Linked DNA regions of Homo sapiens. The protein of the gene in region 2 purifies or fractionates together with the protein of the main gene of each other region. This does not show direct contact. Each region holds a gene or a part of one and is shown on either strand. Other genes may lie near its edges. The genes, in order: OAS1, GMPS, PPA1, ZNF331, COLGALT1, USP46 and MTAP.

Evidence for each region.
Region 1: the proteins of GMPS (region 2) and OAS1 purify together in Homo sapiens (co-immunoprecipitation; one large-scale study listed by IntAct). This does not show direct contact.
Region 3: the proteins of GMPS (region 2) and PPA1 fractionate together in Homo sapiens (co-fractionation; one large-scale study listed by BioGRID). This does not show direct contact.
Region 4: the proteins of GMPS (region 2) and ZNF331 purify together in Homo sapiens (co-immunoprecipitation; one large-scale study listed by IntAct). This does not show direct contact.
Region 5: the proteins of GMPS (region 2) and COLGALT1 fractionate together in Homo sapiens (co-fractionation; one large-scale study listed by BioGRID). This does not show direct contact.
Region 6: the proteins of GMPS (region 2) and USP46 purify together in Homo sapiens (co-immunoprecipitation; one large-scale study listed by IntAct). This does not show direct contact.
Region 7: the proteins of GMPS (region 2) and MTAP fractionate together in Homo sapiens (co-fractionation; one large-scale study listed by BioGRID). This does not show direct contact.

Annotation. Positions count from the first base shown.
Region 1 is NC_000012.12:112,909,656-112,913,899, forward strand, and holds part of OAS1 (2'-5'-oligoadenylate synthase 1), read left to right. Parts: intron 1-1,395; coding exon 1,396-1,580; coding exon of another isoform or gene 1,581-1,603; intron 1,604-4,244.
Region 2 is NC_000003.12:155,873,054-155,877,297, forward strand, and holds part of GMPS (GMP synthase [glutamine-hydrolyzing]), read left to right. Parts: intron 1-4,244. UniProt on the Homo sapiens protein: Catalyzes the conversion of xanthine monophosphate (XMP) to GMP in the presence of glutamine and ATP through an adenyl-XMP intermediate.
Region 3 is NC_000010.11:70,215,845-70,220,088, reverse strand, and holds part of PPA1 (inorganic pyrophosphatase), read left to right. Parts: intron 1-1,271; coding exon 1,272-1,325; intron 1,326-2,157; coding exon 2,158-2,277; intron 2,278-4,244.
Region 4 is NC_000019.10:53,544,366-53,548,609, reverse strand, and holds part of ZNF331 (zinc finger protein 331), read right to left. Parts: intron 1-4,244. UniProt on the Homo sapiens protein: May be involved in transcriptional regulation. May play a role in spermatogenesis.
Region 5 is NC_000019.10:17,575,964-17,580,207, reverse strand, and holds part of COLGALT1 (procollagen galactosyltransferase 1 precursor), read right to left. Parts: intron 3,014-4,244; coding exon 2,937-3,013; intron 2,848-2,936; coding exon 2,741-2,847; intron 2,252-2,740; coding exon 2,119-2,251; intron 727-2,118; coding exon 599-726; intron 1-598. UniProt on the Homo sapiens protein: Beta-galactosyltransferase that transfers beta-galactose to hydroxylysine residues of type I collagen. By acting on collagen glycosylation, facilitates the formation of collagen triple helix. Also involved in the biosynthesis of collagen type IV.
Region 6 is NC_000004.12:52,590,228-52,593,813, forward strand, and holds the end of USP46 (ubiquitin carboxyl-terminal hydrolase 46), read right to left. Parts: 3' UTR 733-3,586; downstream 1-732. UniProt on the Homo sapiens protein: Deubiquitinating enzyme that plays a role in behavior, possibly by regulating GABA action. May act by mediating the deubiquitination of GAD1/GAD67.
Region 7 is NC_000009.12:21,864,426-21,868,142, reverse strand, and holds the end of MTAP (S-methyl-5'-thioadenosine phosphorylase), read right to left. Parts: 3' UTR 1,062-3,717; downstream 1-1,061. UniProt on the Homo sapiens protein: Catalyzes the reversible phosphorylation of S-methyl-5'-thioadenosine (MTA) to adenine and 5-methylthioribose-1-phosphate. Involved in the breakdown of MTA, a major by-product of polyamine biosynthesis.

The DNA.
Region 1 (4,244 bases), on a different chromosome or scaffold from region 2:
CAAGACCCTGTCTCAATCAATCAGTCAATCAGTCAAAACTATGAATTTCCCAGCTGTATATGAAGGCACCTCAAAACACCACAGTGAACTCACAGAGGGACACGGAATAGTTTAGATTTTAATTTTTTGAGGGAAATGCGATGACATCTGTCACACACCGCACAAACGGCTACTATTAAACTGAACTTACTGATTAGTGGCTACTAATTAATAGTTGGTCATTAAGCAGTAATTAGTGATTAATTATCAAGTAATTAGGACTTAATTAAAGGAACTGTCACAGTTTCCTTTAGTCCTAGGGCAGCCATGAAAAAAAAAATGCTGACTCTCCAAAGACACCAGGGTATGAGAAAGTTTTGGATTCTCTCCTTTGTGCCATCTCCTGTGTTGGGGGCTGAAGTACAATGGTTGTAAAAGACAAGAGGGAGAAGGCTGGTCACAGTGGCTCACGCCTGTAATCTCAGCACTTTGGGAGGCCAAAGTGGGGGGATCACTTGAAGTCAGGAATTCAAGACCAGCCTGGCCAACATGGTGAAATCTCACATCTACTAAAAATACAAAAATTAGCTGGGCGTGGTGGTGTGTGCCTGTAATCACAGCTACTCGGGAGGCTGAGGCAGGAGAATTGCTTGAACCCAGGAGATGGAGGTTGCAATGAGCCAAGATCATGCCATTGCACTCCAGCCTGGGCAACAGAGTGAGACTCCATCTCGAAAAAAAGAAAAAAGAAAAGAATATAAGGAGTGATTAAAAAAGAAAAGAAAAGAAAACTAAGTAGGGTGAAACAATAGATAGCCATGGGGGTTAGGGAGCTTTTTTAGACAGGGTCGTGAGGGAGGGTCCCTGAGCCTGAGTGGCGAGAAGGAGTGAGCCTTGGGGAGATCTGGAGGTTCTGGGAAGAGGAATGGCAAGTGCAGAGGCCCTGAAGCAGCAATGACCATGGCACATTTGAGGAAGAGAGAAAAAGTCAGAGAAGTAGAAAGTGGGCAAAGGAAGCAAGACAGGAGGTGAGGTGGGAGAGGTTCCAGAGACCAGATCACACCAGACATCATTGGCCACCATAAGATCTTTGGGTTTTAAAATTCCAGATGTTATGGGATGCAGGAAGCAGCATGATCAGCAGCATTCTCTAGGTGCCAGGTTGAGAACAGGCTGTGGGGGAACCTGTAAAGAGGTTGCTGCCATAGTTCCGGCGAGTGACGGTGGTGGCTTGGATGGGGTGATGGCAGTGGAGAGGGCAGGAGGGAGGATCAGGAATGGACCTCAAGACTTCCCAGCCCTGGGTCTGCTGCACTTTTCAATCAAACCCCATGGCCAGGGAGATTGTCCCCTCAGAGTGACTGAAGGAAATTCAGAGAAGAGCTGACACCTAAGTTGTAGATTTTGCCCGAACAGGTCAGTTGACTGGCGGCTATAAACCTAACCCCCAAATCTATGTCAAGCTCATCGAGGAGTGCACCGACCTGCAGAAAGAGGGCGAGTTCTCCACCTGCTTCACAGAACTACAGAGAGACTTCCTGAAGCAGCGCCCCACCAAGCTCAAGAGCCTCATCCGCCTAGTCAAGCACTGGTACCAAAATGTATGGCCCTCCCACCAGGCCTGGTGGGTCCTGTCTCGACTGGGAGCAGAGGAGGGGTGGGGGGAGGAGAGAAAGAAGGGAGTGAAGGGAAGAGGAGGGGGAGTGGTGGAGGGAAATAGAGGGATGGAAAAAGGAGAGAAAGGAAAAAGAGGTGGAGAGAGGAGCCTGCAACAGAAGGGAGAATGAAAGGGAAGGAAGAGAGAAAGGAAGGGATTTTGGTGTTCTGTTCACTGCTGTATCCCCAGAACTTAAAACAGAGCCTGGTGCATAATAGGTGTAAATAACTGTTGAATAAATGAATCAATGCTACATACACACACGCACGCACACACACACAGAGAGAGAGTCAACCACACTCTTCAGAAGGTGGATAAGTTAAAACAAGAGTTTCAAACAAATATATGTTCAGATGCCCTTTCCTCCCACTTACTGGCTGGCTGGCCTTAAGTAAGCAACTTAACCTTTCTGTTCTTTCTGCTTTCTTATCTGCAACGAGTAGCATGCCATAGCTAGAGTAACACGGCATATAGTTGGTCCTGATAAATGTAGCATATTTTAGCCACCATAGGAGTACACATAATAAAAGCTAACATGTAGTATGTGCTTAGCTTATCTATGTTTTGTGGATGTGATACAATTTTCTGTTCACTTTTAAATGCCCTGCATCTTAGTCAATTTTAACAGTGATTCTGTAAGTTAGATAAGGTTAGGCATTATTATTAAATCCATTTTACACCAAGAGAAACTTGGGTCAAAAAGAGAAACTCCTGGGTCACATGGCTCATTCGGCCAATAAGTAGCAGAAGTAAAATTTGAATTTGGCTGGGCGCGGTAGCTCACACCAGTAATCCCAGCACTTTGGGAAGCCAAGGCAGGTAGATTGCTTGAGCCCAGGAGTTCAAGACTAGCCTGAGCAACATGGCAAAACCTCGTCTCTACAAAATAAACTAAAAATTTAGCCAGGTGTGATGGTGAGCACCTGTAGCCCCAGCTACTGGGTAGGCTGAGGTGGGAGGATCGCTTGAGCCTGGGAGGAGGAGGTTGCAGTAAGTCAGGATTGCACTACTGCCCTCCAGCCTGTGAGACAGAGCAAGATCTTCTCTCAAACAAACAAACAAACAAACAAACAAAAACTCGAATTTGGGTCTATTGACTTAAGAGTTTGCCTGATAATAATAGGCATTCAATGTATATTTCTTGAATGAACGAATGAATGAAAATAATCAGGAATAAACTTTCCAATTTAAAAGTAACACCTCTAGGTAAAAAAAAGACAATCATTTAGTTGCCAGACTTCTAAGTGTTTGCTGTTCTATGAATTGTAATCATGGAGCCTGAGCATTGTAGAATTTACAAAAGCAGTTCCTGACAAAAGCAGCACTGCCCCCAGGGACATATTGAAAATTAATGAGGGTGTTTTTGGTAACCATGGTGATGGGAGGACATGGGTGCTACTTATATTTAGTGGAAAGAAGACAAGAATGCTAGTTATTGTACAATGATCAAGAGAGTCCTGCACAGCCAAGAATTGTCTTTTTCTTTCTTTCTTGATGCTGTTCTCCTTTAAAACAAGACAAGATTAACAATAATTTAACTCCACTAACCACCATCATCACCACCTCCAACTTATATGCTACATTTCTTGTATATTTCAAGTCTGTTTATATTTTCAAGTGCCTCGAAGTATTATTGTTTTATAGCCAAATGTTTAGTTAATCTGCTCACAGATTTACCACTTTCTTCACTATTCATTCTGTCTTACACCTCTAACATTCCATCTGGGGTAATTTTCCTAAATGATCATGCATCCTTTGGGATTTCTTTTGATGATGGTCTATTGGTAGTAAACTCTCTCAGTTATTGTTTGTCTGAAAATGTCATGCTTTTGCCTTCATTGTTGAAGGGTGCTTTTGCTGGGTGGTCATTTCAGTATATTGAATATATCATTCCATCTTCCAGTGTCATCATTAAAAAGTCAGTTGCCAGTCTAACTGCAGCTCTTTTATAAGTAACCTGTCTTATTCTTCTGGCTGCATGTAAAAGTTTTCTCTTTGTCTTTGATTTTGTTTAGCTTCAATCTGCTGTGTCTTAATGATGGGTTCCTATTGTTTGTCCTGATTGGGATTCCGTTAAGATTCCTGAATCTGTGGGTAGATATCTTTAATCAGTTTTGAAACTTCTCAGCCATTCTTCTAAAATATTGATTCTCCTTCATTCTCTCCTCACCTTCTAGAATTCCAATTAAATGTATGTTAGACCCTGCTCTATCTTTCATATCTCTATACTCTCTTCTGTGTTTTTCATCCTTTTGTCTATTTTTCCATGCTTTATTCTGAATAGTTCCTTCTAATCTACCTTCCAATTAACTAATTTTCTCTTTAGCTATATCTAATTTGCTGTAATTAATTACAGTTGCCATTTTTATCCTAAAATTTCTATTTCATATTTTTGTATCTGCCATGGTACTTCTTATGGCTTTTAATTCCCTGCTAACTATTTAAAGTTCTTATTTTATCCTGTGAATATGATATTCCTAGTTATTTTATTTTTAATTTTTATTATTTGTTAATCTTATGTTTTATTTACACTTCTTTTCTGTGACATGAGCACACACAGATTCATGTGTATACATATATGGCTCTGATACCTCTCCTTTCCTGTCCT
Region 2 (4,244 bases):
TGGGAGGAAAGGCTTACTTTGTACATTGATTGGGCCTTGGCTGTGTGTATCTTAGTTCATAAATTAAAAGTTGGGCAAGAGCTGGTTTTGATTCCTGTTTCTGGTACATTTCAGTTATCAGGATTTTCTAAAACGGCGTTTTTGCATGATAGAAACTGGAGAGGGGCCTAAAAGCTATGAAAGCATTTGGGTTATTTTAATTATTTTTTATACACAATATTTTATTTAATTTTTAATTTATATTATTTTTTTGAGACAGGATCTTGCTCTGTCACCCAAGCTGGAGTGCAGTGGTGTGATCACAGCTCACTGCTGCCTTGACTTCTTTAGCCTCCTGAGTAGCTGGAAGTACAGGCGTGGATCACCCCGCCCTGCTAATTTTTATTTTTTGTAGAGACAGTTCTCGCTGTGTTGCTCAGGCTGGTCTGGAACTCCTGGGCTCAAGCTATCCTCCCACTTTAGCGTCCCAAAGTGCTGGGATTACAGTAGTGAGCCACTGTGCCTGGCCAGTATTTTATTTATTTAAATTTTTTATTTCCGTATGTTATTGGGGAGCAGGTGTCGTTAGGTTACATGAGTAAGTTCTTTTTTTTTTTTTTGAGATGGAGTCTAGCTCTGTCGCCCAGGCTGGAGTGCAGTGGTGTGATCTCGGCTCACTGCAAGCTCTGCCTCCTAGGTTCACGCAGTTCTCCTGCCTCAGCCTCCCAAGTAGCTGGAACTACAGGCGCCCGCCACCATGCCTAGCTAATTTTTTTGTATTTTTAGTAGAGACAGGGTTTCACTGTGTTAGCCAGGATGGTCTTGATCTCCTGGCCTCGTGATCCACCTGCCTCAGCCTCCCAAAGTGCTGGGATTACAGGCGTGAGCCACCATGCCCAGCCATGAGCAAATTCTTTAGTGGTGATTTGTGAGATTTTGGTGCACCCATCACCCGAACGGTATACACAACACCCAGTATGTAGTCTTTTATCCCTCACCCGCTTCCTACCCTTTCCCCCTGAGTCTCCAAAGTCCATTGTGTCATTCTTATGCCTTTGCATCCTCACAGCATAGGTGATCAGCTTTTCTTTAAAAACTTTTTATTATGGCAGGGGTGTATTTGACATAGTAACTTGAGTTTTATTAAGGCAGCATTATCAGAGTAATGCTTTGGGTGACTTGTCAAGTTTCCTACTCTTTTCCCCTGTCTAAGGGTGAAACTCTTGGTTGGAGTAAAGGTGGTACCTGTCCTATCATTGAGAGGTTATGACTAGGTTATATCATACTTGGATGAAAGATGTTTTATAAACTCTCCCTTAGTGATTGCATGTGATACAGAATCTTTAATGGCATTTAATAATGTTAATTTTAAGTTTGGAATTTCCAAATTTAAGATTTTGAATGGAATGGGAATATAACTTGGGATTTTTATCTGGGATGTACTGAGAATTAAACAACTATATCACCTTTTGTCACAACTTAGTAAATTTTTTTCTTAGATAAAAGTTAGATTTTTCAGATTTTATTCCGTTAGGATATTCATTTAGAGTGGAAGAACTGCTGCAGACAAAAGGAATGGTTTTTAGTGTAGTGTGTTCTTAGACCTGAAAGGTTTTGAAATTCCTCCAGGAATCTCGGATGACATTGCCTTTAGCGTGGGCCAACTTGTCACTTAAGGAAAATAATTCAGTCTTTTAAGAATTTTTACAAAAAGTATAGACTTGTCTTATACTTGTACAAATGTATTTGATACTTTTTTAAGGTTAATGAATTACATTCCAAAGGATGTTGTTTGAAGTAATGAATAATTATTTGCTACCCAGAATAATCAAATTTTGCTGTTGTAGTACATTCTTAAACTTTGTTTTCTTTTTTTTTTTTTTTTTTTTTTTTGAGACAGAGTCTGGCTCTGTTGCCCAGGCTGGAGTACAGTGGCATGATCTCGGCTCACTGCAATGTCCGCCTCCCTGGTTCAAGTGATCCTTGTGTGATCCTTGTACCTCAGCCACCCGAGTAGCTGGGATTACAGGCGTGTGCCACCACATACGGCTAATTTTATATTTTTAGTAGAGACAGGGTTTCACCATGTTGGCCAGGCTGGTCTCTAACCCTTGACCTCAAGTGAGTCGCTCACCTTGGCCTCCCAAAGTCGTGGGATTACAAGTGTGAACCACTGTGCCTGGCCTTAAATCCTGTGTTTTGTTTTGTTTGTTTTTGAGACAAAGTCTTGCTCTGTCACCCAGGCTGGAGTGCAGTGGCATGATCTCCCCTCATTGCAACCTCCGCCTCCCAGGCTCAAGGAATTCTCCTGACTCAGCCTCCTGAGTAGCTGGGACTAAATGCGCATGCCGCCGTGCCTGGCTAACTTTTGTATTTTTAGTAGAGATGGGGTTTCACCATGTTGCCCAGGCTGGTCTCGAACTCCTGGGCTCAGGTGATCCACCGGCCTCACCTCCCAAAGTGCTAAGATGATAGGCGTGAGCCATTGTGTCCGGCCCTGGCCTTAAACTTTGTTTTTATGCCTCTTTCTAACCTAAACCATATTTAGATGCTGAAAATGAATGAAAGTGTCAGGGTTAATGCATAATTCTGAAGCACTTTGTGAATCAACAGAAAAATAATTGTTTCATAGAATTTTAAATCTTTGTGTGGCATATACAATTCTGGGTTGCGTAGAATATTATTTTTTTCATGCTTATTGTGGAATAGAGATGCTTCTGTATTTGCTCAAGAAGGACGGTGGTTAAAAAAATTGCTTTATTATAGTAAAAACATAACAGTCAATTGGTTTTCTTGTTGGTGGACCCTTGCTATGGCTTCAGGTTCATGGTTTTGAGGACCTAGGAGATTATATAGTTAAGTCTATACACTCATTAAGATTGTTATAATGTGAAAGGGAATAAGATCTCTAAACTGGGGCACATGAGCATAAAAAAAGAAGGTGTGGAAAATTTAAATTTATAATAATTGCTGCAAAATAAAATATTACATACAAAAAAATTGTAGATTTACACAATACAATTAGTAAGTAAATGGCAAAACTCCTGTGGCAAGAGTGTTCAGATTACTGTCTTCTGTACATTATACACAGGGACATATAACATCTCTTTCCTGCATGTGTTACACAAATACCCCATATTTCCCAGTGACCCAGCTTATAATGGCCTCGAGGCTCCTGTGCATCTTGCAAGGTGAGGAGTGGCTGTAACACAACTGGGAGGTACACTGAGTAGCCGGCAGGAATAGCAACTTCAGATATTTCTCCTGTCATCACCCAAGACTAGATAGAGTTAGCTATCCTTAATTGCCTGTGTCCAAGAGTACTTGATTTTATTAGAAAAGAGTAAGGAAGGATGTGTTACCAGTATTTGGCATTCAGACTGAACGAGAAGTTAAAAATGAGAACTGTTTACTATGCTTGCAACCCACACAACACTAGACAAAGCCATAGCCGAAGGTGGTATTAGATATAAGGTGAAAGTTTAACAAACCCGTCCTATTTTACTTTAAGGCAGTTATTCATAGTATGTTGTTAAAAAGAAAAATCTGAGACAAATGTTAAGCTGGGTGGGATATCGGACTAACAGATGTACATCAGGAGAGTCCTGGGCAGACTGGACCATATGGTCACTCCATTTATAGAGCACATATTGTTCTGAGTTTGGCTCTGATTTCTCCCCAGTGATGTGTATTTAAAATTTGGCTAAAATTTAAGTCTAGTGTGTATACATTAGCATTATTTTTCTGAGTTAATTATATAATAAGAGTATTATTCTAAAATTCTTGAAAACTGAGTGTCATTAATTACCTGTGTTTTAAAAGTGGTGTGAGCCAGCAGCACTGAACCTGACCCTAAGGTAAAATAATCTTCTCTAGTCTGCCATAACACTTGCAAGGGATGTTTCCCAAACCTTTAAAGCTGCCTGGACATGTGAAGTTTTCTGTTTAGTTACTCCCGTTTGTCACTGGAAAAACAGTAACCTTTTAATCTCAAAACTCACAGCGGTCCATGTAAATTTAATTTCTACCTCATTTGCAATTTGGAGAACGAGTCTCAGTAATTCTTCTGAATCCTATTATGAATGTAAATTTAGGACTCCAGATTTCTAAAATTCTGCTTTGGACAAATTTTGGATCAACGATCTCTGATTAATTTGGGAAATTTTAGATGAACAAAAGTACCTGTAGATATATCATTATTTTGATGTTATTGGTAGCAGTAGAACTTCATTATACTTATTATTTGGCAAGCAAATTAAAAGAAA
Region 3 (4,244 bases), on a different chromosome or scaffold from region 2:
GTGTAGTGGCACGCCCCTGTGTTATCCCAGCTACTCAGGAGGCTGAGACAGTAGAATCACTTGAACTCAGGAGGCAGAGGTTGCAGTGAGCCAAGATTGTGCCACTGCACTCCAGCCTGGGTGACAGAAAACAGTAATTGCAGATTTAGCTTCATCTGTGCCCTTTGTAGAGGCTAAAAACTGAAAAACTGCAGTTAAAGTTCTATTCCGTGAAAAAAAATAGTATTCTGAATAATTAAAGCTCAAGTTTAATTAAATAACCTATGGCATATTTAACTCCAGTGTGCAAAATGGGTTGGCAAAGTATGGTTTGTTTTTTCATTGTGTTTTTAAACTGCACATCTGGGAATTTACTCCCTGAATATATCATCTATTTTATAGTAGTCAGTTTAAGGCTATAAGCCAATTACAGTAGAACTATCATTGATTAAAATATTTTTAAAGCATATTCTCTTATCTTCAAGGTCAAAGTCCTTTTCAGGGGGGCTTTATTTCTAAAAACAGCCGAATTGGGAGAATAATGTGGATAATGAAGCTGATGAGTTTTGTTTGATGCTAAAACTAAAGTATGACCAAGTAATTAGGCTGATGTGGGGTTCGTCTTATAAACTAAAGTATGATCAAGTAATTAGTCTGACTTGGGGTTTGTCTTATAAACTGTCTCTGAAATAGAAGCTCCAAAAACATTTTGAGTAATTGCAGTGTCTCTGAAGGAAATAACACTGGCCTTTGGAGAGTGTTTTGAAGATGGTCTTCTTCAGAGATACAGGTTCTGTTACGTTTATTTAAGAACTGTTTCCTTCCTAGGAACATTCTTTCCACTGTCAGCTTTTATTCTGAAACACTTAAAGCATACAGAAAAGTTAAAAGATTTATATAGTAAGTTGGCTGGGCAAGATGGCTCACACCTGTAATCCTAGCACTTTGGGAGGTGGAGGCAGGAGGATCACTTGAGGCCAGGAGTTTGAGACCAGCCTGGGCAACACAGTAAGACCTTGCCTCTATAAAAAATTTAGAAGTAAATAAAAATTAAGAAGAACTATACCGTAAGCAATCATATACTGACCACCTTGATTCTATAATGAATATTTTCCTATAATTGCATTATTTCTTCATCCATCATTCTCTTTTTTTGATGCATTTTGTTGAAAATCCAATTGACTTCAAAGATCTGATACAATGAACAGTTTGACTTTGGAAGAAATAGTGCATGCTCCCTCAGAGAACAAATTGGCTCCTGTGACCATCTCACTTTCTCTTTGTTTTTTCAGGATGTGTTTCACATGGTAGTTGAAGTACCACGCTGGTCTAATGCAAAAATGGAGGTAATATTTCACCTTACATTTGAGTCAGACTTAGGATATTGGTTTTGATCTAGTCACACTGACTTGATCAAGGATGAACCATCTGAACGTCAAGGTTTTTCTCTGTCTGGTCCCAGTCTATTTTCTAGTTGTATCTCCCATTGCCTACTAGTCTTCCCTTTGGGCTCCAGCTAAACTCAACTGTTTACAAATATGCCCCAAACTTTTCTTCCCAACATCTTTGCTTCCAATGTTCCCAAAGCCTAGAATTACTTTTTCTCCTCTTACTCTCTGTAAGCCCTTCACTGACCCCTCCTTAGTCACCCCAGCCACAGATACTCTCATTGGAATTTCAGTTGCATGGTGTTAGTTTCTTTCTGATGATACCTACCATCATTGCCTTTTTGTTATGGATATTTATAACATATTTTATATCACAAACTCTTAACAGTAATCACTTTTTTTGTGTAATAAATACCCAAGTATTTGAATAATTTTAAATTCTGTGAAGGAAAACTAAAATTGGATAATATTTATTTTGCCCTTTTAATAAAAATTGTGGTATTTTTATTACTCAAACATTAGAATTTATTCCAGCTAATTTTAGTCTTTGCTTTCTAGAATTAGTAAATGTTCTTTTTCCCTTCTTGATAGTTCCTTTATACCTCACATAACCTTTCACTTAATGGCCGATTATGGAAACACCTTAGTTCAATTATAAAAGTGTTAGGGATAAAATATATCATTAAAGTGGAATTAGGGAACATAGGTACCATAATTCATTTCCTCAGATCCTTATTTGAATAGTATTTCACATCCAAATATGCAAAGATTTGAAATTTTCTTATTTCAGATTGCTACAAAGGACCCTTTAAACCCTATTAAACAAGATGTGAAAAAAGGAAAACTTCGCTATGTTGCGAATTTGTTCCCGTATAAAGGATATATCTGGAACTATGGTGCCATCCCTCAGGTATGTCTTCATGCAACTGCTGACAATGTACTTTTTAGCTTACTAAATATTAATTTACTGCTATTAGTAAAAAAGGTTTGAATACCTGTGGAGAGTTTTTTCTATGGTAGATTTTGAAAACATAAGAAGGGATAATTAACTCAGAATGCTTCCTTAAATAACTTATTTTCAAGATAAACTAAATATTTACAATGTTTAAATTCAGATTTGAACGTTTATTCTTTCCTGAAATATTTCTTCTTTTTTGGACTGGTTATAAGCTATATAAATTCTCTACAGACTGAGTTGCAAGTCTGTTCAGTCAAGAAAGAGTGTATGGTAGTAGTCAAAAGCACTGATTTTTGGCACCAGACAGACCAGAGTTCAAATCCCAAGATGGCCAATTCCTAGCTTACCTAACTTGCCTCCCTTTCTTTCTCCTTGAGACGTCCATATCGCCTCCCTGAGCTATTCACAGTATGTAGGTGGTATGGTTATTTCAAAAAATAAAGCACTTAATACCTGCACACAACAAGCTGTCATAGCTGCTGACTTTATGTTTAGAGTTTTGATTCCCTCTTCTTCAGGTCAAGCTCTTTGTGGTAAAGTAATGAGAGGATCATGTTTTCTTAAGTAGTCAACCTTTTTTTTTTTTAATTAAAAAAATTTTTTTTTGAGATGGAGTCTTGCTTTGTCACCCGGGCTGGAGTGCAGTGGCGTGATCTCGGCTCACTGCAAAAGCTCCGTCTCCCAGGTTCACGCCATTCTCCTGCCTCAGCCTCCCAAGTAGCTGGGACTACAGGTGTCCACCACCTAATTTTTTGCAGTTTAGTGGAGACGGGGTTCACTGTGTTAGCCAGATGGTCTCGATCTCCTGACCTGTGATCCGCCTGCCTTGGCCTCCCAAAGTGCTGGGATTACAGGTGTGAGCCACCATGTCTGGCCTAATAGTCAACCTTTTGAGAAGGGTTGTTTACCAATTTATTCCCAGCACAATGTCAGTATGTAGTAGGTTCTTATTTGATATTTGAAGAATCACTAGGATCTTATCTATAATGAGTAAATGACATCTATTTAATTCTATTTTGGCTAGGCCAGTGCTGTGGCACTTAAAATTTAATGCTGAGACACTAACTAAATATTCAGTTTAATTTTTTTGCTGTTGATAAATGGTTTGTTTTTATTAACAATGAAGTCTGTTAAATGGAACGTACTATGAAACAACCCATAAGATAGTAGAACATAGGTCTGACCCATCTAGCTTGTTAGGTAAGCACAAAGTCATTTGTTTGTCTTAATTACAGTGTTTCACCTTATACTTTAATTGAAATTTTTTTTTTTTTTTTGAGACGGAGTCTTGCACTGTCGCCCGGGCTGGAGTGCGGTGGCGCAGTCTTGGCTCACTGCATCTTCTGCCTCTCAGGTTCGAGTGATTCTCTTGTCTCAGCCTCTTGTGTAGCTGGGATTACAGGCGCCTACCACCACGCCCAGCTAATTTTTTGTATTTTTATTAGAGACAGGGTTTCACTGTATTGGCCAGGCTGGTCTCAAACTCCTGACCTTGTGATCTGCCTGCCTCGGCCTTGCAAAGTGCTGGGATTACAGGCATGAGCCACCACGCCCGGCCTCAATTGATTTATTAATAGTATTTAGCCTTGATATATCATCCTTGTAGGAGAACATTGCTGAAATACTTACTCTTCTGTGGGTTGGATTTTGCTTTCTTAATGTTGGATTTGTTAGATGTGGTCTTCCTTTATCCCCCTTCTCATTTATCTTTTTGCCTTTACTCCAGCTGAGTAGACAAACAAATCTGAGTAACGTGTTCTAGTTGGAGGAAAAAAGAACCAATGCAACAGCTACATTTTAAACCTAACATCCTGGCTAGCACAGGCTTTCAGTTCTTTTGTGAGATGTTCTGCAAGGACTCTGGCTTACAATTTAGGAAGGAAAGAAAACCAGTCATGTAAAGCTCCAGAAAATTCTGA
Region 4 (4,244 bases), on a different chromosome or scaffold from region 2:
GGGAGAGACTATTTCAAACCATATATCTGATAAGGGGTTAATATCCAAAATAGGGCTTGGCATGGTGGCTCACACCTGTAATCCCAGAACTTTGGAAGGCCGAGATGGGAGGACTGCTTGAGCCCAGGAGTTTAAGATCAGCCTGGGCAACATGGTGAGACCCCATATCTACAAAAAATTGAAAAATTAGTCGGGCATTGGCCGGGCACCGTGGCTCACACCTGTAATCCCAGCACTTTGGGAGGCTGAGGCAAGTGGATCATGAGGTCAGGAGATCGAGACCATCCTGGCTAACAGGGTGAAACCCTGTCTCTACTAAAAATACAAAAAAAAAATTAGCCGGGCGTGGTGGCACGCGCCTGTAATCCCAGCTACTCGGAGGCTGAGGCAGGAGAATCGCTTGAACCCGGGAGGCGGAGGTTGCAGTGAGCCGAGATCACGCCACTGCACTCCAGCCTGGGTGACAGAGGGAGACTCCATCTCAAAAAAAAAGAAAAGAAAAGAAAAGAAAAATTAGCCGGGCATGATGGCATGTGCCTGTAGTCCCAGCTACTTGGGAGGCTGAGGTAGGAGGATTGCTTGGGTCCAGGAGGTGGAGGATGCAGTGAACTGTCATTGCACCACTGCACTCCAGCCTGGATGACAGAGCAAGACCCTGTCTAGAAAACAAACAAAAAAAAACAAACAAAAATGACAAAACATAGAACTCAAACAACTTAACAGCAAAAAACCAAACAACCCTGATAATAAATGGGCAGAAAACTTGAACAGCCATTTCTTGATAGAACACATACAAATTGCTATAGGTCTGTGAAAAATTGCTCAGGATCACTACTATTATTCAGGGCAACAAAAAGTTAAACCACAATGAGATATCACCTCATACATGTAAGAATGGCTTTTATTAAAAAACAAACAAAAAAAATAACATGTTGGCAAGGCTGTGAGGAAAAGAGGACCCTTATACACTGTTGGTTAGAATGTAAATTAGCCATGATGGAAAACACCGTGGAGATGCCTGAAAAAACTAAAACTATCAGATGACGCAGCAATCCCACTCTGGGTATATATCCAAAGAAAATGAAATTAGTATGTCATGGCGATACCTGTGCTCCCGTGTTCACTGCAGTAGCATTATTCACAGTAGCCAAGATAAGGAATCAACCTACATACTCATCAGGAATTAATAAAGAAAGTGTGGTAGAGATAACACAATGCAATGCCATCCAGCCTTTATAAAGAAGGAAATCCTGTTATTGTGACAACATGGGTAAATCTGGAGGACATTGTACTAAGTGAAATAAGCTAGACAGACAAATCCTGCATGATGTCATTACATGTGGAGTGTAAAAAAAATCCAACTCACAGAAGAAGAGAGGTGGTCGTCAGGGCCTGGGAGGGTGATGGGGAATGAGAAGATTAAAGGAGATAAAGTGGGAATAATTTCTGGAGATTTATTGTCTAGCATGGTGACTAAATATAATGAATAATATTGAATATGCCAAGAGACTAGATTTAAATGTTCTCATTGCAAATATGATTATCAGTGAGTTGAGGGAGGGATATGTTAATCAGCTTGATTTAATCTGCAGTATAAACACAGATCAAAGCCTCTGTAGACCATAAACATACACAAATTGCCATTGAAGACAGCTGCCAACCTCTGCCCTAGATCCAGAACTCATACTCAACATTAAACCATATGGTTTCTCACAGTTCACACAAACGGGGAACTGAAGAAAAACAGAAGCTGTCCGCCCAAAGAAGTCCAAGTGAATAGAACAAATTTCGATTTACTGCATATTGAAAAACATCTCTGCCTTTGATGACACAGAAATTAGCTCAAACTCCGCTCTTAAAGGCCTCACAAAACTGACAACTTTGCCAGGTACAGACTAAACAAACTAACTTTCTCTTTTCTTGTGCTCTAAAAATCAGTCCCATGGAAAAGACCAAAGATATCTGTGTTTGACTCCACCTAAAAACGAATCCCCTCCTTACCCAAGCACACTGTAAAATAAAGCGCGCTAACATGAACCTCTAGGAGGGAGTTGTTTTTTTTTTTTTTAGGGGGGATTTTTCTATACCATCAGATCTTAGAAAACCAGAGCACACAGCAGGATGTCAACAATTTGACAAATGGGTTTGTGGATACTCAAAGGAGAGGGCTGGTCAACCAGGGGGTACAGAGAGGAATATACCTGCCTGGCCCTTGCCACATCCCCTGGGGAGGAATTACTGGGATAAATTGCTATTAGGGAGGATATTTGGGGCCATAAAGAGTAAAGAGTCCTAAGTCATATAAACACAAATCATTTAATGAACAAAAAAGGTAACTCATGTGGAGAGCCGACTTTCAGATATATAATATTAGGTCAGTGCAAAAGCAATTGACATTAGACATAATGGCAAAAACCGCAATTACTTTTGCACCAACCTAAATAATAATTTTTTTTTTTTTTTTTTTTTCCCCCTCAGGATGCTTTTTCTGAAGGATGCCAGCCTAGGGGAAAGGAAGAATGAGAACCTAGGGTCTTTCTGGAGCACAGGCTGCATTAGCAAATACCCTCCAGGGCACGCCTGTCCCCAGGCCACAGCCGAAACCAATCCGAATGGAGAGGACACTGGCATTTGTGAGTTTCAGAGTTCTTGGGGACTAACGTGTATTTACTGGATTCTAGAACACGTGATGCTCCCGACACTCACCTACCAAGTTAGTCACCTCTCCCTCCACAAGGACTCCCACTCCTGAGGCTTCCCGTTACTGTGACACAGGAGCCGGTACGGAGAACACGTCCGGCTTGAACACTTATCTATGACAATGGCTGTGCCCTTTGTGTTGGTTCAGTTAATGACAGGGTCCTGGCTCTCATGTCCCACTGGGGGCCGCTGCTCTCAGGCAGGTACCACACTGTTGGAAGGTGAAGGCAGAGGAAGCCCAGAGACAATGGAAATACAAGTGGCAGACTGTGAGTCAGTGACTGATCTAGGACTGTGGCTGGGTGATCGGGAGTGTGGCCTACTGAGTGTCCATGAGTGGATGTGACTGGCGCTGTGTCACCCCAGCTGGGACCCCGTCTGGCCTCTTGAGTGGGGTGATGCCGGGCGAGCCACGGCTGTTCTCAGAAGGGTATCCTCTCCTAGGCCCTCTGGGGCGTCACCTGGAATTCTCTGCAGGCCACAGCACAGGCTGCCCGAGCTGCTGTTCGGTGCCCCTTGCTTGCTGGATTGTAAACAATGTGCAGGCAGCAGTTATGCCCCGTTAGTCACGCTCTCATTCCAAGTACTAACGTCACAGGGTGTGGCATAGTGCGGGCCCTTAACAAACATCTAATTTTGACTCAAAATTCCACATGTGGAATTTATGGGTCCAGGAGGAGGAAACAGTTAGAAAGACAAGAAAACAGAAGTACATAAATGTATGTGAAAGAGCGATCAAGAAAAATTTTTTTCTAGGTAAGTTATTTTTCTAAAAAACTGAGATAACTGTAGATTCACATGTAGTTGTAAATAATAATACAGAGAGATCCAGTGCACCCTTAACCTGACTTACACCAGTAGTGATACCTTATAAAACTACAGTACAGGCCGGGCATGGTGGCTCATGCCTGTAATCCCAGCACTTTTGGAGGCCAAGGCAGGCAGATCACAAATTCGACACCAGCCTGGCCAACATGGTGAAACCCCGTCTCTACTAAAAATACAAAAATTAGCTGGCTATGGTGGTGGGAGCCTGTAATCCCCGCTACTCAGGAGGCTGAGGCAGGAGAATTGCTTGAACCCAGAAGGTGGAGGTTGCAGTGAGCTGAGATTGTGCCACTGCACTCCAGCCTGGGTGACAGAGAAAGACTCCGTCTCAAAAAAAAGAAAAACAAAACTGCAGTACAGTATCACAGCCAGGATAGTGACACAGATTCCCTCCTTGATCTTATCTATGATTTCCAGAGAATACAGTTTCAACAACGAAAAAAATAGCAGTATCTCACAGTAGAGGATGGGTTAAATTATGGTCTGCTATATGATGGCATGGAATACTAACAATATTGATTCTTTTTTTTTTTTTTTGAGACGGAGTCTTGCTCTGTCGCCCAGGCTGGAGTGCAGTGGCGTGATCTCGGCTCACTGCAAGCTCTGTCTCCTGGGTTCACGCCATTCTCCTGCCTCAGCCTCCCGAGTAGCTGGGACTACAGGTGCCCACTACCTCGCCCGGCTAATTTTTTGTATTTTTAGTAGAGATGGGGTTT
Region 5 (4,244 bases), on a different chromosome or scaffold from region 2:
GTTGGTGGCACTCCCATCCAGGGGCTTGTCTAAGACCAGGCGCCCTGGCCACGCCCCCACACTCTTCGGCCACACCTCCAGCTCTGACCACACCCCCATGCTCTTCAGCCACGCCCACAGGCTGCCCGGTCAAATTTTAGCCACATCCACCTCCACAGGCCTCAGTCAAGTCTCTAAGCCTTGACCAAGCCTGCAGGCTTCCGGCCAGGTCCCTTGAGTTCTGGGTGATCCTTCCAACGCCCTTCCCTATAGGCTACAGCCCTGACAGTGCCTTCAGGCCCAGGAACCACGTGAGCCCTCCTGCTACGCTTCCAAGGGTTGGCCACGCCTGCCACCCTGACCACACCCAGACATACAGGCTCTAGGCTCAGCTGCAGCGCTGTGGCCACGCCCGTAGGATTCAGCTCCACTCCGCCTCCCAGCCCCACCTCTAAGCCCTGGCCATGTACCTAGGCTCCAGTTCCACCCCACCTTCAAGCCCCGCCTCTAAGCCATGACCCATCCCCAGGTCCCAGCTCCACCCTGCCCCCACCCCCACCTCTAAGTCCTGGCCTTGCCCCAGGCCCCAGCTTCACCCCATCCTCAGACCCCCACTCACATGAGGTCCCAGTCCAGGCCCTCCCGCTCCACATCCCGCATGAGGTTCATCAGACGTCTCTTGAAGAAGATCTCAAAACGCAGGTCATCCTCAAACACAAGCGATTTCTGCAGCCCCCGGTCCACCACCTGAGGGAGGAAGCCCCGCCACATCACAGGGAGGCCAAGGCCAGGCCTGACCCTAAAGCACAGAGCTTTGCTTTGAGAAGGTTTGAAAGACCCGTAGAGAAGCCAGTGCATCTCCCTGCCTCTCCTAGCTCCAGGGACATCTGGACATCCAAACCTCTGCCCTCTGCCGTCCATAATGGATCTCAGAAGAGAAAGGCCTCCCAGCCCCTCAAATGCCCACGCCTCATGCACCTCCCGCCTTGCAGCCGCACACCCCCATTTGGCTTCACATTCGATAACAAGTTTTTCTTTTCTTTTTCTTTTTTTTTTTTTTTGAGACGGAGTCTCGCCCTGTCGCCCAGGCTGGAGTGCAGTGGAACGATCTCAACTGCAACCTCCGCCTCCCAGGTTCAAGTAATTCTGCCTCAGCCTCCTGAGCAGCTGGGATTACAGGCATGTGCCACTACGCCCGGATTTTATTTTTCTTTTTTTGAGATGGAGTGTCACTCTTGTCGCCCAGGCTGGAGTGCAATGGCATGATTTCAGCCCACTGCAACCTCTGCCTCCTGGGTTCAAGTGATTCTCCTGCCTCAGTCTCCCAAGTAGAGGGATTACAGGTGCCCACCACCACACCCAGATAATTTTTGTATTTTTAGTAGAGTCTAGGTTTCACCATGTTGGCCAGGCTGGTCTTGAACTCCTGACCTAAGGTGATCCGCCTGCCTCGGCCTCCCAAAGTGCTGAGATTACAGGCATGAGCCACCACGCCCAGCCATTTTTCTTTTTTCTGAGACACGGTTTTGCTCTGCTGTCCAGTCTGCAGTGCAGTGGCACGATCTTGGCTGACTGCAGCCTTAACTCCTGGGCTCAAGCCACTCTCCCACTTTAGCCTCCCAAATAGTTGGGACCACAGGTGTGCGCCACCATGCCCGGCCCTGATGGCCCAAGTTCGAAGCCTAGTCAGACACCCTCCTCCAATCACAGCCTCTCCCTCTGAGGGTGGATGAGGATGCCTGGGCTGGTGAGTGCCCCCAGCAGCACTGGGCAGGTGCTGGTTTAAAGTGGCTCTGTGGCCATGACTTCTAGTACTAAACATCAAGCACAGAGACCAGGCTGGGAGTAATGAGGATTTGTTTACAGGTCCCAGGCCCCAGACACCACCTGCTGCTCAAAAGGGCTCACCCCTACCCCCAGGCTCAGTTTCCACATTTGCGCAATGGAAGGATGGCAGGTACACCTGGGGGTGATACAGCTGGTGTGGCGCATCATTCACTAAAGAGAGGCCATGGGTCCCATGGCTGAGGCTGGATGCCTAGCCGGGGCTTTGGGGAACTCTTTCAACCCCTTTCCCGTCCAAATCTCCGATGAGATCTAGAGTCATAACTCTGGCCCCGCCCATCACTCAGGACACACCTCCTTCCAGATGTTGTAGTGGCTCAGGAAGCAGCCCAGCTCACCCTTGGTGAGGGGCCGGCCGTGGTAGGGGTCCCGGTAGCCAGGCAGCATCTGGATCCCCAGCGCCTCCACCTGGCTGGTGTTCATGGCTCTGGAGAGGAGGAGGAGAGGGTCACGAAGAAGGTTCACCCTGCCTGCCATTCTGCCATCCCCGGCCATTCCACCACCCCCTGCGGCGTTGAGCAGCTGGTCCACCTCTTGTAGCACTGGCACCCCTTCCGGGCACATGGGGCCTCACTCACCTGCACATGGTATACACTCGCGGGCAAACCTGCTCTCCTCCTCTCCTGGGGTCTGACTGACTTACCCCTCCACAGTCCCCACCAGTCTACACTGGCAGCATGCAAACCTACCCATTCCCCTGGGTCAGGACTCACTTGCCTTCCATGGTCTACAACTGTGAGGATCTGCCCCTTCCCCAGGGTCCCATTCACTTCCCCTTCAGGACGCCCACTGACGAGGTCTACATCTGTTTGGACACCACGCCCGCCCCCATCTGAATCACTTGCCGTCTACCAGCGAGGTCTACACCCACATCCACGTGCGGACCCGCCCCCCCACCCCCAGGCCTCGGACTCACTTGCCGTCCACGGCCTCCACCAGCCGGCACTCGATCTCCTGTGCCTGCAGCGCCCGCAGCATGCGCTCCCGCCGGTCCTGCCGCCGCCTCAGGTTGATCATGAAGACCTGCAGCCCGGAGAGTCCCCAGCCAGATCAGCCCCTGCAAACAAGGGCCCTCCAGCCCCCGCCCCGCCTCCAGGGAAGGCCCAGCTCACCTCGTCGAAGCCCATCTTGTCCGGTGTCTTGGTGGGAGCCGAGATGAAGCGGGAGGGCTCTGCGGGCGGGTGCTTCACTGTGGGGCACAGACGTTGAGGAGTCGCTGGGGTAAGGAGCCTCCAGCCTCTCTCCAACACGCTTTCCCCACCCACTCCATGGCTCCCAGTCAGACTGGCTCGGCCCACAAAGTCGACCTGGCTCCGCCCACATCAGCGCTGCCCTCTAGGAGCCCCTCCCATGTCATTTGAACCCTGCACAGCAGCCCAAAGCCCTGGCCACACCCCAGGCCCCAGCTTCACCCCGCCCCCAGTCCTGCCTCTCAGCCCTGGCCACACCCCAGGCCCCAGCTTCACCGCGCCCAAGGCCCCGCTACTCAACCCTGGACTCGCCCCAGGTCCCAGCCTCACCCTGCCCTTAGCCCCGCCTCTAAGCCCTGGCCACACCCCAGGCTACAGCTTCAACCTGCCCCCCAGCCGCACCACTCAGCCCTGGCCACGCCCCAGGCCCCAGCTTCACCCCACAGCCTCCCCCAGCCTTGCCTCTAAGCCCTGGCCATGCCCCAGGCTCCAACTTCACCCTGCACCCCCCCAGCCCCACCTTTAAACCCTGGCCATGCAACAGCTTCGCTCCGACCCCCAGCCCCGCTTCTAAGTCCTGGTCACACCCCAGGCCCCAGCTTCACCCTGCTCCCAGCCCCGACTCTCAGCCGTGGCCACGCCCTGGGCTCCAGCTTCACTCCGCCCCCAACCCTGCCTCTAAGCCCTGGCCACGCCCCATGCTCCAGCTTCACTCTACCCCCCAGCCCCACCTCTATGCCCCTGCCAACCCAAAGAACCCCCATTCCTACCTCAGGGCCTTTGCACATGCTGGATCCCTGCTTGAAATACCCTTCCTTTCCCTGCTCTGTAACGTTACTTCTCAGCTATGATGCCCTGGGCATGGGGGTCACCCTCCCCACTCCCACCTCCCTAGGCTGAGCCAGGCACCTCCTCTGGGCCCCAGCAGCACCTGGACTTGCACCACCAAAGCTCGCATCCTTGCTGCCCTAACCCCCTGGCCCTGTGCCTGTCTGTTGTGAGCCCTTTGGGAAGGACACCAGGTATGTCTGCTCACACTGGGCCCCTAGTGCCCAACACAGGGGCTTGGCACACAGCAGGCACTCAGTAATTGCTTGTAGAATGAACCAAGAAATGATGGCATGCTGTATATTCTTGATTGGCCTGGGCCTCAGCTTTCCTCATCTATAAAATGGGCCAATAAGCCACTGAGAGGTTTCACAAAGAGATGTCATGAGATCATGCACTATG
Region 6 (3,586 bases), on a different chromosome or scaffold from region 2:
ACAGGAAGAGGGTTTTCTCTCCCTTCTACAGCCTTCACCCTTCTGCTGAAGTGTCATACATCTGTGAAAGGAAAAGAACATCTTGGGACCCCAAACTCACTATACCAAAGGGAAAAGTTAAGCTTGGAAGCTGGGTCACAGAACACTGTCTTTCCTTTTGTTCCTAAACAGATAGCTACAAGAGGCCATGTCTCCCCAGGTGGCCTCCCCAAGTATGGGACAAGAGGAGAGTACAAACCATCCCCACTGCCCAGCCTGAGATAAATGCATATTTGACTTCTTCCCCTATTCTGTTTATCTTTTGTAAAGTGCAGTTTTACTGAGCAGGGGACATACATAATCGACTGTTCCTCTACCCATTCCTTGCCACGTGCAACACATGGATTCAGTGAGTGTGAATCAAAGCCTCCTAAGAATGTGACCATGCTCTCCCTCTTTTTTTTGTTCTTTCCTCCTTTCTCCTCCTGCCTACTTTTCCCCTTTAAATACTGAAGCCCTCAAAATCCTCTTTGGAGAAAGTAGGGGCCATAGATCATACTGTAGCTTGTGTCTCTTTTCCCTAGTGTGTCTTCAACCTTGGCAAAATAACCTGTACATTGATTGAGACTTGGCTCAGTCTTTTGGTTTACATGTCAAAGCTGCCACATATGACATACCTAGCCTAGCAATTTATACTTAATATTTGTTCTCTGGGCTTTGGGGTAGCAGAGATAGAACAATATACTGAAGCCATTTCTCTTCAAAGAGTTTTCAAACAATTTATTTCACAGGAGAGGTGGAGAAGGCCAATCTTCTTCACACAAGTTTTATAACCCATTAAAACAGTATCTTTCTAATCCCCTCAGAGTGGAAAACAGGTAATTCTCAACCTGGAGACAAGCTCTGAAGTACAGAGCTATCACCTGCTGCAGGAGGTGTGAAGGCTCATTCTTAAAGTTTTCTCACGTTTATTTTCCATTTTCTTAGCACAGAATGTTCTTTCCAGCAAGGTCCATTAAGAGAGACCGAAATATGAATATGGCTGCATTGGATTCCAGAGGAGGACTTGATCAAATACACAGAAATAGTGGCTTCAATGATCAAGTTATTTTGCTTCTGGTCAAGTCGGATACAAGTCTGAGTTTTCTTTTCAAAGCTCCCTTATGCTGAGAGGAAGTAAGAACAGAATCAGACTGCAGTCTACAACACAAGTGCCTGAACTCCTTTTCCAAGAAGAGCTTCTGTAGAATTCCACACTGCCTTAAGCACAACCTCACTCTTTCTCTCACTCTTGGGAAAGAAAAAAGTGAAAGATGCATCCGTGTAATTGACAACCTGAGTACGATCCCAAGGTTGTTAATATATAGTTTATTATAATCATGTGGGAAGTAAGCACACAATTAGAAGTCTTTTCTATACAATCTAATGTCATTTCTGACTCTGGTATCTCATAACCAAAATGAAGCTATTTTTCCTTTGTAAGCTCCTGATGTCTTTTGTTCAAATCCCTTTAAAACATAAAGGAACCTTAAAAAGCAAACAAAGGCTGATGCACCAATAAATCGCTTATGCCCTATCTTATTTTGGTAAGTCTAGATAGGCTCTAATTATTTGGTCATAATGTAAACAGATTGTTTAGAAATAACAGATATTTGATTCATAAAGCTCACTGTTGAGGCTTTCATGATACTGGCTCTTTTAACATGAGAAGAGGCAAAACGTGAAGTTCATTGTTGCAACATAATCGATTTATACTTTGTTTTTCAAAATGTGTTGTCCCTGAGCTAGAAGGCAGGCTGGGAAGAGTGTGGGGCTCCCAGGAAAAAAGATGGTGTGGCTTCATCCAACAGTGCCATCTGCATGTTGAGGCTGGGGCTGAATACCAAACTGTGCTGAATTGCAAGGAGTTTCCCCCACACGTGTTATTTCCACAACTTAAATTTTAAATTTCTTTCTCACCCAGACTTGTCTTCTGAGACAAAAAACGAGTCCATAAGAGGGACCCAATCTGTGTCACCTTTTTATCCCCCAGCTCCTATCACAATGCCTAGAATGCAATAGGTGCCAAATAAATGCCTAATTAAAAATCTCTCCACTTGGGGTATCTTCAGAAAAAGTCTACATGGGCTATCTTTAGTACTAACCCCACAACCAAAATTTTCCTTCAGTAAAAGAAAAATGACTGATACGGTTTGGCTCTGTGTCTCCACCCAAATCCCATGTTGAATTGTAATCCCCAGTGTTGGAGGTGGGGCCTGGTGGGAGGTGATTGCATCATAGGTGGTTAAGCACCATCCCCCTAGTACTGCCTCATGACTGAGTTCTCACGAGATCTGGTTGTTTAAAAGTGTGTAACCCCAGCCGAGCAAGGTGGCTCTTGCCTGTAATCCCAGCACTTTGGGAGGCTGAGGCACCTGAAGTCAGGAGTTCCAGACCAGCTTGGCCAATATGAGAAAACTTTGTATCTACTGAAAATACAAAAATTACCCGGGTATAGTGGCACATGCCTGTAGTCCCAGCTACTTGGGAGGCTGAGGCAGAAGAATCGCTTGAACTCGGGAGGCAGAGGTTGCAGTGAGCTGAGATCTCATCACTGCACTCCAGCCTGGGTGACAGTGAGACTCCATCTTAAAAAAAAAAAAGGAAAGAAAAGTGTGTAACCCCTCCCCCTTTGCTCTCTTCCTCTTGCTCCTGCCATGTAAGATGGGCTTGCTTTCCCTTTGCCTTCTGCTGATTGTAAGTTTCCTGAGGCCTCCCCCAGAACAGAAGCCTGTACAGCCCATAAAACCATGAGCCAATTAAACCTCTTTTCTTCAGAAATGACCCACGCTCAGGTATGTCTTTATAGCACTGCCAGAATGGACAAATACAACGACTTAGTAAGTATTTTTATCTTCATGTAAATATAAGGGAATGGAAATGGAAGGCTTCATTTTTTTAGTAAAGGTATTTTAAGTATCAATAAAAAGAGAGGAAAGGAAATTTGAAGAAATGGGAAAATACATTCTCTAGAATTTGTGTCACCTTGGTAGTGACAGGCCTGTCCTATAAATCCCAGGACAAAGTGAGGCCTAGGAAAGAAAAACACAGTCCCAAGAAGGTCTTCTCTGCCTTTGGCCTTCGTGGCAGACAGAAGTGACCTTCCCAACAGTCTCTGTTCCAGCTCAGTCAGGTTCAACTGCACTGCCCCGAGAAGATGGACAGCAGCTGGGAGACTCAACACTTACTGGCACATTCCCTGCTCTTGGTCTATGAGGTTTTATTCCCATAATTGGGCCCAAGCATGTATTCCGATGACAATCTTCTGTCCACCCACAGGTGCCCTGGGTGATTGACAGGGAAAAGCAGCCCTACCCATAGTTACTGTAGGCTTCACTGAGGCCACATGGCATGGACCTGTGCCTGCCCTCCTTCTGGGGCAGGGAGTGGTGTGAACCCACGTGAGTATTTCTGAAGCTGGGGGGTCCCCCATGGCTCAGAAACAGGCCCAGAAGTCAGGGCACCAGGGACCAATCACAGTCCTACTCCTTCCTAGAAACCAGATACTGGAAGCTGCCTTCTTATTTGGGGAATGGATCTTTCATTTCATAACTGGTTAAAAGGATTT
Region 7 (3,717 bases), on a different chromosome or scaffold from region 2:
GGTATGAAGTAGACAGTTTAAGTCTCTTGATTCATCCCTCAGAAGCCATCAATAAGTTTCTTTCCAGAACCTTTCTGGAAATATGAAGTATAAACATCCTATCTATACATCACCACAAACTTATTTTACTCTATGTATTTTTGATTTCCCCTTTTGTCATGAACATTGTTCCATACTGGTGCATAAACAGATATCTATTCTTTTTGACAACTGCACATTACTTATTTGAATTGATGTACCTTAGTTTATTTAAAACATCCTATGACACTGAGAATTTTAGCCATTCCCAAGCTTTTGCCTATAACAGTTCCAAGATGCATTTATAGCTGCAAAATATTTTCAGGTATCAAATGTAACCTGCTGTTCCAGCCTTTTTCAATCTTTTTGGTTAACAAATTCTGTATATAAACAACTCAGGCTGTCGTCATCTTTTTTTTTTTGAAGTTTATTTTTATCTTAAAAATATATGTTTGTAAATGTGTCAAAATTAACCAAGCCCTGACACCTGACAAGACTTACAAGAAAGGAAAATCACAGACCAATCTGTCTCATGAGCATAGATGCAAAAATCAAACAAAATATTTGCAAACCGAATCCAGCATTATATAAAGGGGATAACATATCATGACTAAGTATGGTTTATATCAGGAATGCAAGATCAGTTTAACATTAAAGAATCTACATTAACAAAATAAAAGAGAAAAGTCAAGATTCTCTCAACAGATGCAGGAAAAAGTACTTGGTGAAATTCAACATGCATTCATGACACTCTTGGCAAAATAGGAATAAAAGGGATCTTCAATCTGATAAAAACATGAAACGGAAAAAACCTATAGCTAACATATTTTAATAGTGAAAAACTAGACGCTATCCTCTGCTGTTGAGAATAAGACAAGAGTAACAACTCACACACCGCTTCTATTCAACATTAGGTTGAAGGTCCTAGCCATTACGACAAAGCAAGAAGAAACAAAAGGTAAACTGTTGTTATTCATATATGACATGATTGTGTACACAAGGTATCCCTAAGGCACTTGCAATAAAATAAAAATAAGAACTACTACTGAACTAAGTGAATTTAATAAGATTACAGAATATAAAGTCAATATACAAAAATAAAACATATTTCTGTATACCAGCAATAAACTTAAAAATGAAATTAAAGTACTATTTACAGTAACATTTCCACAAAATATTTAGGAATACATTTAACAAAAGATATATACAAGACTTCTTCACTAAAACTACAAAATATTGCTGAGATAAATTTTAAAAGGCCCAAATAAATGCAGAAACATACCATGTCCATCGATTGAAAGGTTCAATATTGTCAATTCTTCCCAAATCGACCTAAAAATTCAGTGCCATTCCAGCAGATTTTTTCTTAAAGAAAAATGGAGAAGCTTAATATAAACTTTATAAAGAAAGGACCTATAGCCAAAACAATCTTGGAAAAGATTGCAAAGCTTAACAATACTTAATTTCAAGACACCATAAAGCCACAATAATCAAGACAGTGGGGTACTGGCATAAGAAGAGACACATAGATAAATGACATAAATAGATCATCCAGATTCACAGATAAACAGTAAATTTTGACAAGGGCACACAGGTAATTAAATGAGTAGGCAAGGTAATTAAGTGAGTAGTCAAAATTAAATGATTTTGACAAGGGCACACAGGTAATTAAATGAGTAGGCAAAGATTTCTTGGAACACACAAAAAGCACCAACCATAAAAAAAATTGATAAACTAGGCTTCGTCAAAATGAAAAACTTGTTCTTTGAAAGACATAATTAAGAAAATGAAAAGGCAAGCTAAAGACTAAGAATAGTCACAACACACATATCTGAAAAAGAGTGTATCCAGAATATATAAACAATTCTTACTATTCAATAATAAAACAAAACAATCTAATTTTTTAATAAACAAAAATATTTGTACAGATAGTTCACGAAATATGTGAATGGCCAATAAGCACATGAAAAGAAGTTCAACATCTTTAATCAGAAAAATGCAAATCAAAACCACGAGATATCAAAATATACCCAATAGAATGGCTAAAATTAAAAACGCTGACAATACCAAGCTTTGTCAAGAATTCTTACAAATTACTGGTGGGAGTATAGGCATTTGCACAAGTGAAAATATGTTCACAAAAAGACTTGTAATTTCATGCTTATAGCAGCTTTATTCATAAAATTCCTCAAATGGAAAAAATTCAAACATTCATCAACAGGTGAATAGATAATCAAATTGTAAGATAGGCATATGACAGAATACTACTAGGCAATAAAAAAGGCACAAGCTACAGATGCATGCAACATGAGTGAATCTTCAAAACAAAGAAATAATGCATGCCGAGATTGTCTTTCTGAAGAAATTCCCCTCATTCTTTGGGATCCCGAGGTTCTCAAAGGCATAGCTGGCAACAGGCCCTGAAACAGCTTCTTCTGGACTACCCTACTAGTCTTGGTAGATTTCCTCGATCTTTGGCATTCCTTCTTTTCTTCCATGGTCTTCATTTACTGCTGTCCTTCTTGCCTATCTTGAATTATTCTATACTATTATGAGGAGAACACAGGTTCTTCCATCCTGGAACTTCAGTTCTTTGCCTTGCTGGGCCAATATATACATTGAGCCAGATTGTGTGCACACTGGTAGTTCCAAGGTGCAACAATCTTCAAAACATTTGAGGAGTGTATTAGTCCATTCTCATGCTGCTGTAAAGGACTGCCCATGACTGGGTAATTTATAAAGGAAAGAGGTTTAATTAACTCACAGTTCCACATAGCTGGGAAGGCCTCAGGAAACTTACAATCGTGGCAGAAGGGGAAACAAACACGTCCTTCTTCACATGATGGCAGGAAGAAGTGTTGAGCAAAAGGGGGAAAAGCCCCTTATAAAACAAACAGGACTTGTGAGAACTCAGTATCATGAGAACAGCAGTGTGGGGGTAACCACCCCCATGATTTAATTACCTCCCACTGGGTCCCTCCCACAACATGTGGGGATTATGGGAACTACAATTCAACATGAGATTTGGGTGGGGACACCGCCAAACCTTATCAAGGAGGGACTCTGCAAATGTGGCAAGAACTCCTCATTTCGTGACTTCCTAACCCATCAGATACTCCTTGAAACCTTATCAAATTGTTTCACTGGATAAGTGCTGGCTAAATGCTTGTTGAGAAAATTAAAAACATGTTCAGGCCACTGTCACAAGAATGAATAATTATTTGGAAAATAGGTGTTGGTGGGGCCACAACCATGCCCTGAGGTAGCAGCCAGAGAAGAGGCTCCAGGAGCATCCTGTGGATGCCAGAGCAGGCTCACGTGGCACCTGCAGGGCAGCTGGCTCAGGGCAGGTTGGAGGTCACCTTAGTCACTCCCTCTTCAAGGAAGTTCACTGTCCTCCACTCCTGAGGGTGCCACCGTACCAGAGTTTCCTTCCTTGAAACAAGCCATGGTAGCTACCTCCAGCCCTGCACAGCAACTCGTGCTAGCGAAGGGGGCAGTGAACAGGGGCCAGGTCACAAGGACCATGACCCTCGGGGACCACAGGGCCAGGATGTCATTCTCAAAACCATGAAAATCCATGCCAAATATAACAGCAGATTATAAGGCCAACAAAGACTTCTATGTACATGCAAATCTATTAATCACTAAGGGCTAAGTCACTAAACTACAGCTTTCCCATGATGCTCACCATCCATC